Regions from separate parts of the Homo sapiens genome. Here all the other regions are linked to region 1. The links come from fine-mapping of genetic effects on gene expression. A gene starts in region 1. Each other region holds a variant in brackets. All regions are shown on one strand. Distances are between the middles of the regions. Region 1 holds the start of GAPT (GRB2 binding adaptor protein, transmembrane). Region 2 overlaps RAB3C (RAB3C, member RAS oncogene family). Region 3 has its middle 160 kb from the start of LINC02101. Region 4 holds the start of PLK2 (polo like kinase 2).

What was found. PIP is the estimated chance that this variant, and not a neighbour inherited with it, causes the effect.
Region 2: its variant is fine-mapped to the expression of GAPT in whole blood (TOPMed, PIP 0.95).
Region 3: its variant is fine-mapped to the expression of GAPT in whole blood (INTERVAL, PIP above 0.99).
Region 4: its variant is fine-mapped to the expression of GAPT in whole blood (TOPMed, PIP above 0.99).

What each region holds. Positions count from the first base shown.
Region 1 is chr5:58,489,876-58,492,563 of GRCh38, forward strand. GAPT (GRB2 binding adaptor protein, transmembrane) reads left to right here and starts at 1,560. Exons shown (of 3, transcript NM_001304431.2): 1 at 1,560-1,666.
Region 2 is chr5:58,631,998-58,634,685 of GRCh38, forward strand. All of the region lies in intron 2 of RAB3C (RAB3C, member RAS oncogene family), which reads left to right. Among named protein-coding and RNA genes, the nearest start is that of RAB3C, 50 kb to the left of the region's middle. The variant A/T (reference allele first, on the strand shown) is at 1,464.
Region 3 is chr5:58,285,896-58,288,583 of GRCh38, forward strand. No RefSeq gene overlaps it. Among named protein-coding and RNA genes, the nearest start is that of LINC02101, 160 kb to the left of the region's middle. The variant A/G (reference allele first, on the strand shown) is at 1,369.
Region 4 is chr5:58,459,135-58,461,822 of GRCh38, forward strand. PLK2 (polo like kinase 2) reads right to left here and starts at 952. Exons shown (of 14, transcript NM_006622.4): 1 at 556-952. The coding sequence starts at 825. RefSeq lists a silencer at 1,270-1,449. The variant T/C (reference allele first, on the strand shown) is at 1,022.

The DNA of each region.
Region 1 (2,688 bases):
ATGCCTAGGCAGGTGAGTGTGTATATTATTTGGAGGGGTGGCTAATACTGAAGTTAAATATAGTGGTGAGAATGTGGAGCACATCAAGTTCATAGCTTCACAACTTCATAACCTCCTTCACTGTAAGATTTTTGTCCAGGACACCCCTATTCTGCCTTAACACCTTATTCTATGAGGCTTAGCTCAGGTCTTGCCTTCCCTGACCACCCTCTGAGCTGGATGCCTCTTTCCTTTACCTCCACTGTCCCTGTCCATAATCCTGTCTTTCTTAGGCATTATCACTTTGATCTGAAATGTTCTGTGGGCGCAGCAGCCTCTCTACTTGGCTTTAAGTGCTGCAGGGAGCTTATTCACTCTTGCATCCTCATCTCTTAGCACAATGCCTGGCATAATGTCAGTGCTCAGCAAGTGTTAATAATACGTCCTGTCCTTCCAATGTCCAGTAGTTATTTCAGTAACTAAATCCTCTTTTTTAAAACCACCTTATGCAAAGTTAATCCTCTGTGGTTCAAAAAGTTCCAAGACAACTTAAAAGACAAATTTTCCATTACTTTGTCATCTCATCTGTCGAATTCATCTGTAATTTGTCTAATTCAGCATCTCCCACTGTGTGTGTTCCCATGAGTTGGACTCCAAGAGATGCTCTTGGTAAGCGTATCTATGTGGGAAACATGTTACTCAATCTAGCAAGGCAGCCAGTGCAGTGGTTTAGCACACAGGTGCTGGGGGCAAACTGCAGGCTCTGTCGGGCAAGTGATCATTCTGTGTGCTTCTGTTTCCTCTTCTGTAAAATAGGACTAATAACAGTTTTTCTCCCTCACAGGGTTGTTGCCAAGATTTGCTGAGTATTACACAAAAGGTTTGGAGTACTTAGTGCTAGGAACATACTGACTACTATTATTAAGCAAAGTTAAACAATTTCTTTTTCTTATTTGGTTTTATTTTGTTTGCTGGCTGTAAGACTGCTGAGAGCCTTTAGCATGCTGATGTACCCATGAATCTCCAGGGAAGCAGTATTCCCCACATTTACTTGATGGAAGAGCTGCTAGCATATCTCAGGGGTAATGGGCCTCAAAACATACCTTAGGAAATTCCTATTTATAAATTTAAAAGAACGTTAACATTTTCCAAACCCAAATTGGGACACTGATTTGACCTGTATGGCTATAACTTGGGAGCATTGGTACATAATATTAATATTTGAAGAGAGGACTGGTCTAGCAACACAAGTAAATAATAATAATAATAATAAAAGCCCAAGACCTATGTGTTACTACAATTAAAATATTTCTTTTTTTAAAAAATCAAAGTACAAGTGAAGTGACTTTTATTGATATTAAAGTGGGAACTGCAAATATGGCCCAAATAAAAAACCATGTAGGCTTTACGTATTATTTTCTGACACAGTTAAAAAACTATTACTTGACAAAGATGAAGGGCCAGACTTCCTTATTCAAAACCTCACGCCATTTATCTTAATTCTGCTGCATCTGATACTGACTTCCTCTAGAGCCAGGAAACTTTGCAAGTATTAAATAGCGTGAACGAAGGAGGGAAAGAAGGAAGTAACCCACCAAAGTGAAAAAGAGGAACAAGTTCTAACCCAATGCAGGTTTAAAACATAACCAAAAGAACAAAAGAGAGAGCTTGACACACCAATCTTGAGGTAAGTAAGAACCTGATTTAAGGTATTTGGATGATTAAACACTATAAGAAACAAGTTTGTCTTTAATTAATCAATGATTTTTATCTTACTACAGTTTTTAGAAAAAAATGCCTTACGTAGCTGTAAGGGGGAAACCCAATTTACAAACTGAGAGTGATGTTAATGTTTCTTTACAATATGATTATGCTTTGCTGTTACCTTGTTTCCAAACAGCAGGGCATTCTCTTACTTGAAAATTCCTGAAGTTTCTCAACAATTTGCGATTTTAAGAAAAATGTCAAATTGTTAGGTAACCTGTTGGAACTGCTTTCCAAAATGAAAACAGAGTCTTCTTTCAAACTGGTCAAAGTGAACATTATTTAAGTGTTAAACTATATTTGAATGGTTATTGTTTAAAATATGTTTTTCATTATAGTAGGTCTTTGTTCATGTCTCACAGGTTTTTTCCTCTAATGTTATTTCGAAGAAAATGATGCATTTCTTTTTCTGTAAAAAGTCTTCTTGTCTTTATCTTGGTAAATATCTCTTAGACAAACAATTTTAATATTTTGGATGTACCAGAATTTCTACTCTACATAGAATAACATAGATGGTAAAAATGCCTTTTCTTCTTAAAAATTAAGAGAGTAATTTATTGCCTTATCCTCAGCTACAGAAGTGACAATAGTTAGCCTTCCTCAACCCTCACCGTGACTTCTGTTGCAGGCCTAGTATCTTTCAAAAAGTTGATTAATTTCAATCAATACTTAAAGTGTATTTTGTAAATTTATTTCAAATATTCTGGCAAATAACTTCTTAAATCATTAACCATGTATACCATAAAATATCTTGCAGATAATTGGTGCTCATCTGTTTCAGACAGGAAATGAGGTCCTAATGATTAAAGTCATTTGGCTAAACTTTTGTCCTTGAACACAAGCACGGCTGGCCTTATAAAGGAGGGACCCTGCAGATTGTAAATCTTATGTGGCGGACCATACAGTTCTCAACCTCAATATTACTCCCAAAAATTCCAAGGAGAT
Region 2 (2,688 bases), 140 kb after region 1:
TTAAAGGAGAGAGGCTTCTTACTCAGAGACTGGTGAAAATCCAGATCTGCTGAGACCTTTCAGCCTGGCCTTGATGGTGACACATGAAAGTGATTCTACAGTTGGGAGGCACTCAAGTTTGCAGATGGCCTGATCTCACAATATGAGAGAGATTCACATATGAAAGCAACCAGACAAAGAAGGCTGTAGAAACTAGAAGCCTGGGTGAACAGTTTTTTACGCTGGGGTTTATCAGAACCATTGTCTCCCAGAGGAGTGTCTGGTCAATAATTTTAACATAGGAACCATGGTCTCTACAGACCTCAAAGTGTGGTCCCAGAGTCAGTCCCTTGTCGGAATCACTTGGGGAATTTGTTATAACTGTAGATTTTGAACCCCATGTCAAGCCTACTGAATTCATATCTCTCTGTAAACAGAAGCAGGGAATATGGATTTCTAATAAACTTCCCAGGTGATAACTGCCATTCTGAGAAACAGTTCATCCTGTCATATTGTGTCTGTTCACGGAGGGCTGAAGGGAGGTCTACTTCAGTCTATAAACATTGATGATGGATCGGGGAAGGGGCAGACCAAGGTCTTTTTCTCAGACCTCCTTCTGTTTTCTGTAGCCAGATAACAGTCTTAGATTGGCCCAAATATGGCAGCAGGCTGTAGGCCTATTCTTCGAGTGGCTGTGGACAGAGGGTATATGTGCCTGGAGAATAGCATCAAAGCTTAAGAGCTTCTGACATACTGTATTTGACAATGGTTCTACTTGCTCTTTCATCCCCTTCTCTTCTTTCCCTACCAGCCTATTACCATCCCCTTCCCTCTCTCCATGACTGAATACAGTCCCACTTCTGTCTGATTGCTAACTTTGCTTTGGATTCTTTCTCTTTCCTCCTATTCACTACATTCTTAGCTATTGAAGTTTAGAAGCATTTTCTCTCCATTCACCTTCATCTCAGTTTTCTATTCTAGTCTCTGAACTGGACATGAAGCAAAATGGGAGGTTCTAATACTATCTCTGTCTCAACCAAAGAGATGTTTGTCTCCTTAAGCTTTTTGGCATTTCCCACAGTGATTTGCAAATTTCTTTTTATGTCATGGAGTCATGTCTTTAAAGGAAGGCATATGGAAAATTCCAATGACTAGAGGGAACTGACCTGTTTTCAGCAGGCTAGGAAGCATACGGTTTCATTTCTTCAACTTCCCAACCCCTTACCTAGAGGAAGGCAGAGAGGGCTCATCCTGGAAAACCATTGCTCTACAACATCTTTTAGAATGAGGGCAGAAGAACCTACAGACACATCTCTGGCAGACTCCATCCATGGGGTAAGCCCCTTTAGAGATGGCAGATCTTATGGAAAGAGCCCATAAAGTCTCTTAAAACTAGACTATAGGAAGGAAAGTAGAGGGGGAGGCACAAACGTAAAGACATCTAGCCCACAGGGAATCTGCCGTAACTCTAACATAACTTGTGT[A/T]TTTGTGTGATAAGGATTCATTAGTAAATAGTGCCAGGAAAAACATTTAATATGGACATTCTCTCCAGGTAGAGAAGAGAAAAAAATTGAGATGAGACCAACAGTTAAAACTTTCCATATCTGAATAAAAGTCATATTATTAAGAGATACATGAATAATCTATCGTTCAGATTTTGATTTTTCTTAACTGCCTCTTCCACTAAGTTATATGGGCTCCTAAGGGTTATGGGCTGGACATTATTTAATTCAGGAGTCTCAGCATCTAGCATTATTGGCCCACAGGAGATCTCAGTACATATTGAATTAATGAATGGGTATAGTAATATCTAACAGAGTTATGATCATGCTCGTTTACCCTATACATATTTACTTGTTAAATTTGTTTGTTTGGGCCACGTGTGGTGGCTCACGCCTATAATCCCAGCACTTTGGGAGGCCGAGGTGGGCGGATCATGAGGTCCAGAGATTGAGACCATCCTGGTTAACACGGTGAAACCCCATCTCTACTAAAAAATACAAAAAAAAAAAAAATTAGCCGGGCATGGTGGCTGGTGCCTGTAGTCCCAGCTACTCAGGAGGCTGAGGCAGGAGAATGGCGTCAACCCAGGAGGCAGAGCTTGCAGTGAGCTGAGATTGCGCCACTGCACTCCAGCTTGGGCAACAGAGCAAGACTCCATCTCAAAAAAAAAAAAAAATTGTTTGTTTGTACTCCTAAATTTTATTTAGATATTTTTAGTTCTCACAATCATCACTGTTCTTCTTTCCCATTATTTCAGGAGTTCAGGTTGAGGGATATTTATTCACACCATTGAAAAGTTTAAAGAAATATTATACAGGGAAATAAGATCACTTGGGAGAACTCTGCCTTCCAGAAGCAAGTGTAGCATTCTGGTTAGGAGCACAGGCCCTGATGTCAAACTGTCTGGGTTCAAATGCTGAATCAGCTCCATTCTAGAGGCTTCCTAACTTCTCTCAATTCTAGTTTCTTTATCTGTATAATGGGCATATTAGAATATCTCCCTTATAGTATGGTTATGAGGAATAATCAGGATAAAACATGCAATTCATTTAACACAGAACCTCATAAATGGTAAGACTCAAGAAATATTAGTTCTTGTTATTATTTGTGGCTTAGACCAAGAAAAAATTCAACATCCAATCTCAGAAAGTTGTGTTTTGCCACTTTGAAACTTTCCCCTGTTAATATAAAACTACTAAATCAGAG
Region 3 (2,688 bases), 200 kb before region 1:
AAGAGCAGGAAAAACTGCCTCATAAAACCATCAGACCTCAAGAGAACTCACTCACTAACTATCATGAGAACAGCATGGGGGAAACTGCCTCAATGATCCAATCTCCTTCCACCAGGTCCCTCTCTAGACATGAGGAGATTATGGGGATTACAATTCAAGATGAGATTTGGGTGGGGACACAAAGCCTAAACATATCACTTGGCAAAACTCAAAATGCATCTCATGCATTCCAGGGAAGTGACCTAATATTTCTATGTATGCGTATGTTTTGTTATCCTATTGAAAATCTTTTTGGGATGCATGATGTCGGTATCCAAGGATCCTTTCTGCTTCAATATTGAGGCCATGTTCTGTAAGTTATATGCCAAAAGAAGCAAAGTAACTCCTTTCAACTCTTAAGATGTCATGCTATGCCCTCTTTAGAATAATATAATATTGATATCCTGCCCCTCAGGCTTGAGGCTATCTCCCATAGACTGTTTTAGAACAGCACAACACAAGAGATAAAAATGATATACAAAATGCCCCCCACTTCCTTTTTTTATTAATGTGTACGATTTCTTTAGTAAAATATAAGAAGTTTTTATAGAATCATTTCAATCCTATTGAGAGGGTGGGTTCCTCTTAGAAATAGCTCAAGGGCATCAAGGAATGTTTGAGCCTGTGATTTTTGCTCTGGTTTTGGCTAGGGGAACGCCATGTGCAAATGAAGTATGAGGTTAAAGTTTGGTGTGTAAGCAAGGTAATGTTCCTGAAATCGCATGGAGCTCTGCCTCTTTGGCCTCTCCTCCCTCTTCAGGCCTTCTTTATTCAGACTTACAGCTTGCAGACTCCTGAGGGCCCAGGAATTCTCATTTTAAGAGCCTCTTTGAGGTATGCTGGCTTGTGAAGGCAGCATGGTGTGCTCGGCTGAAGAGACAAGAGGCCTGGACTTTTGTTTTGATTCTATTTACCACTTACTGGGTGACCCTAGTCAAGTCACTTGACATATCTAGGCATTCTTTTCTCAGGGTTACTACCATTTGCCCTCTCTGGGTTATCTTGTTGGTCAAATTAGGAAATGCATGAGGAAGTACTTTTAAAGCTTAAAATGGAATGTAAGCTCTTTGCATCTGTTTTTTCTCATGTTCTCAACTGATAAGAATTCTCCAAAGATTTTTCTTCCACTCTTACTTCATTCTTTTTCTGCATAATATTCATTTCTTTGGTGCTTTCAACAGCACTTATGGGTTAACATATTACTTCTAGGCATATAATTCTCAGGTTGACATCTATACTTCCAAATCCTTTTTCAAATTCCACATCAAAACTTCCAACTGTTGCATTGATAACATACATTGCCAACCTCTCAGATGCAGCTGGTTTACA[A/G]TGAGTCCACCATCTCACCAATCTTCCCACCTCCCATTTGCAATTTCCTTTATTTTCATTGCATCATTATTCTCACTATAGGGACTAAAGTATCCCAGAAATATTTTTGGCCTCTTTCTTACCCCTAAACTCACTTCCTTACATCTATGTTCATATTTGGTCACTTCTCCTTCTACATAATCCTCCCTTTTCCATTTATTCTGCTAAATATTTTCATGCAGGCCCTCATTACCTCATGCCTGAATCATTGCAACAATTCCCTAATTGAACTGCCCATCCAGAATATCCTCCATTCAATGCATCGTATACACCATTTCAAATAATTCTATACTAAAGTACGACAAAGATCATGTCACTCTCTTGTTTAAAAACATTTAATGGCTCCCTCTTGCCTAAAAAATAAAGTGTCACATTTCTTGGCATTGTTAATATAATCTTGTTTGGTTGTTTCTTTATCTCTTTGAGGTTTTCATATATGTAGCAAAAGGAAATAAGTAGTAATTGGTACATACAATTTACTAATCAATTTCTCTGCTAAAGCTGGCTACCTCTGTTACTACGATCTGAAACTACAAAGAACAGCAGTCAAGTCTGTTCACACATCATTCCCAGTTAATCTCATTGGCTTTAATTTCACTGATTTCCTTCAAATTTCTAACGTCTTCTTTGTCTAGACTATTATTTCTTTCAAACATTTTTTTCTGTCAACTGTCCATGCAGTTTGTCTCTGCTATACCTTGCAGCTAAAATGCATTTGCTTAAAAATCTCTAGTAACATTTATTCAGTGTTTGAAATAGAATATGCCGGAATAGGAACAGCTCCAGTCTACAGATCCCAGCGTGAGTGATGCAGAAGACGGGTGATTTCTGCATTTCCATCTGAGGTACCAGGTTCATCTCACTAGAGAGTGCCAGACAGTGGGCGCAGGCCAGTAGGTGCGTGCACTGTGCATGAGCCGAAGCAGGGCGAGGCATTGCCTCACTCGGGAAGCGCAAGGGGTCAGGGAGTTCCCTTTCCTAGTCAAAGAAAGTGGTGACAGACAGCACATGGAAAATCGGGTCACTCCCACCCAAATACTGCGCTTTTCCGACGGGCTTAAAAAACGGCACCAGGAGATTATATCCCACACCTGGCTTGGAGGGTCCTACCCCCACGGACTCTCGCTGAATGCTAGCACAGCAGTCTGAGATCAAACTGCAAGGCGGCAGCCAGGCTGGGGGGAGGGGTGCCCGCCATTGCCCAGGCTTGCTTAGGTAAACAAAGCAGCTGGGAAGCTCGAACTGGGTGGAGCCCACCACAGCTCAAGGAGGCCTGCCTGA
Region 4 (2,688 bases), 31 kb before region 1:
AAATGGACGGCAGATATTTTAAATAAATAAATAAATGGGAAGAAAGAAAAGCAAAAAAAAAAAAATTGAGGAATGGAGGAGGGTGGACAGAGGGAGGCATTCGACTTCGTTAAAGCTCCCTCATGAAGAGAAATGCATTGCTGGAAACAGCAAGTTCAAACAGTTTCTCTTCTTCTTTTATAAAGGGGAGCTTTATGGAGGGAGTTGGAACGGGGAGACATGAAAAATAATCTCTGATGAGACTTGTCAGGAAAATTCCCTGGGAGCAGATAGAGGGAGAGAGGTCTGATGTAGAAAGCCCTCGCTTCCAGACTCAAGATGCATTTCTCTGGGCTGCGGGAGACACACAGTTCTGAGGCTAAGAATGCAAAGCCGATCCCCAGCGCTGCCGGCGCACAAAAGCCAGAGGGCAGGTGAGGAGCCCACCTCGCGCTGGGATCGGACCCCCGAAAAACCCGGAAGCGGCGGGCGAGGGACCCCGCGGGCTTGCCCGGCTTGGGGTCGCCCGGACAGACCTCCCGCCCGCCCGGCAGCCCGGCGCCCTCCGCTTGTCACCTTTCCCAGCACTTTGCCCCGGCAGTAGCGCTTCCCAGTCGTGGGGTCGACGATAATCCGCGAGATCTCCGGCCCCGAGTGCGAATGGTGGTGATGGTGGTGAGGGGCCGCCGGGGGCACTTGCGCCTGGGACTGAGGTGGCTGCGATTCCTCGGGGGGCTGCGGCGGCCGCTTCTTCTTCGAGTCCGCTCCGCAACCCTTGCCCAGCGCCTGCTCGCACATTTTGGTGCTGGCGGCTGGCTGGTAGGTGATAGTCCGCAAAAGCTCCATGGTCGCCTTGCCGCCCCGCACTGCCCGCTGCCACCCCCTAGGCGCGGTCACACGTCCGAGCCGGCCGTGGTCCTCGCACCCTTGCCTCTGGTGCCGACTAGCACCCAACACCCCGGTCCACTTGTGCGAGTGAGAGCGCTCGGCGAAGTCTTATATACGGGGAGGCGGGAAGGGGGCGGAGACTCGATACGCGACA[T/C]CACGTCACGGCCTATGCCCCGCCCCACGGCCGGCCGAGCGCGCGTGGCCGGGAAGCAAGTCTTGTCCCGCCACCCGGGTCTCGCTTCCCAGCGGAGCCGCGCGCCTCAAACGCCGGCCGCCGAGATCTCTTGCGGCCGCGGGAAGGCCTTCAGAGCCGTCCGTGGGCCCCGCTGTCCCGTTCTTCGAAGGCTCCGAGCCTCAGCGTACAAAACAGAATCGCGAGGGCCGACGCCTGGCCTCACCCCCGCCCCAGCCGCCTGGTGGCAGGGCAGTGCCGTGACCCGAGCGAGTCGGGCGCGGGTGTAGACGCAGTCCCTCCCCCGCACAGCCCTTCCCGGCCGCCCGGGGCCTCCTGTGTCAAGGTATCAGGGTGCCCGGAGCCCGCCGCACGGGCAGGCGAGGCCTCCTCCGGCCGTATGACAGGGCTCGTCTGCAGCTGCCCCGCAGTGCCTGCCCGCGCTGTGACGAGCTCGCTGGTGTCTAGCTGGGGCAGTGCCGAGAGGCCGTGGGGGTGAAAGGCCGGGATTCGTGGAGCCGGGCATTCGAGCCCATCGCGCTAGGGCAGACACGGGCCCGCAGCCGGGATCCCGGGCCGATCGGCCAACCGTGCCAGGATCCCACTCGAGGCCCGTCTGGCCCCCGCCCATGCCCCTAGAGCGAGCCTCTGTCTGAGGTCGGCCCCTGAACCTTGCAGAGCGAGGTCGGCGTCCTGGCAAGGCGTCCTCCGCCCGTAGCCCGAAGATTGGAAAGCAAGGGCGCCATCTTGTGGAATGTTCCGGAATGCCGTTAGGTGTCGAAGTGGGCAGCGGTTGACAACCGTGGGCCTTTGACAGTTACTAGTACTAAACATCGATGCCGATTGTGAGTTTCCAATCAGAGTCATCTATGACTTCTTCCGAATGCATCTGTTGAGATGGCTCATGAGCTGCCCTGGTTCCTGGAGAGTCAATCTGAGACTTTCTGGGGTAGGGAGATTGGTAGGATGAAGAGAGGAGCGTAGGCCAGTGAGTGCAAACACAGCTTAGTTTCCCATTTCCAGATTTTGCTGTGCAGTTTGACTAATCTAGGAACACGTTTTTTTGTTTGTTTTTCTTGTTCTAATTACGATAGAGTAACATTTATTGAGGACTGTGCAGTATTTTTAAATGCCTTATTTCATCCTACAACAATTCTGAGAGAAATATTGTAAGGAAGGAAAAATAATTTTCCACCTTTCAAAGTTTTGGCCTGGGTCGCTGTAACCAGACAGATTAACAAGAAAACAAAGAAGCTTATTAACATATACGTCTCATATATACATGGGAGATAACCAGGAAAATTAGAGATGGTTTAAAATCGGGCTTAAATACTATCTTTAGCTAAACCAAAAGAAAAGAGTGGGGCAGGCAAGTTAAGGAATCATGACCAGGAAATGTACGGTAAACAGGAGTGGGGTTTCTTATTTCTTCATTGATAAGTTTTTCATGATTTAGAGTCATTCTTCCTGGTACAGAGGAGACACTTTTACAAATGGAGTTTTGTGGGGTTTTTTTGTTTTTTGTTTTTGTTGTTTTTTTTTTTAGTGAATGTACGTTTCCCTTACGAAAGGGTAATATGCCATTTTTAGAGCATTTCCTGGGTCTGCTGGTTCTCAAAATAATTATCTTAAAATAATCTTTATCCCAG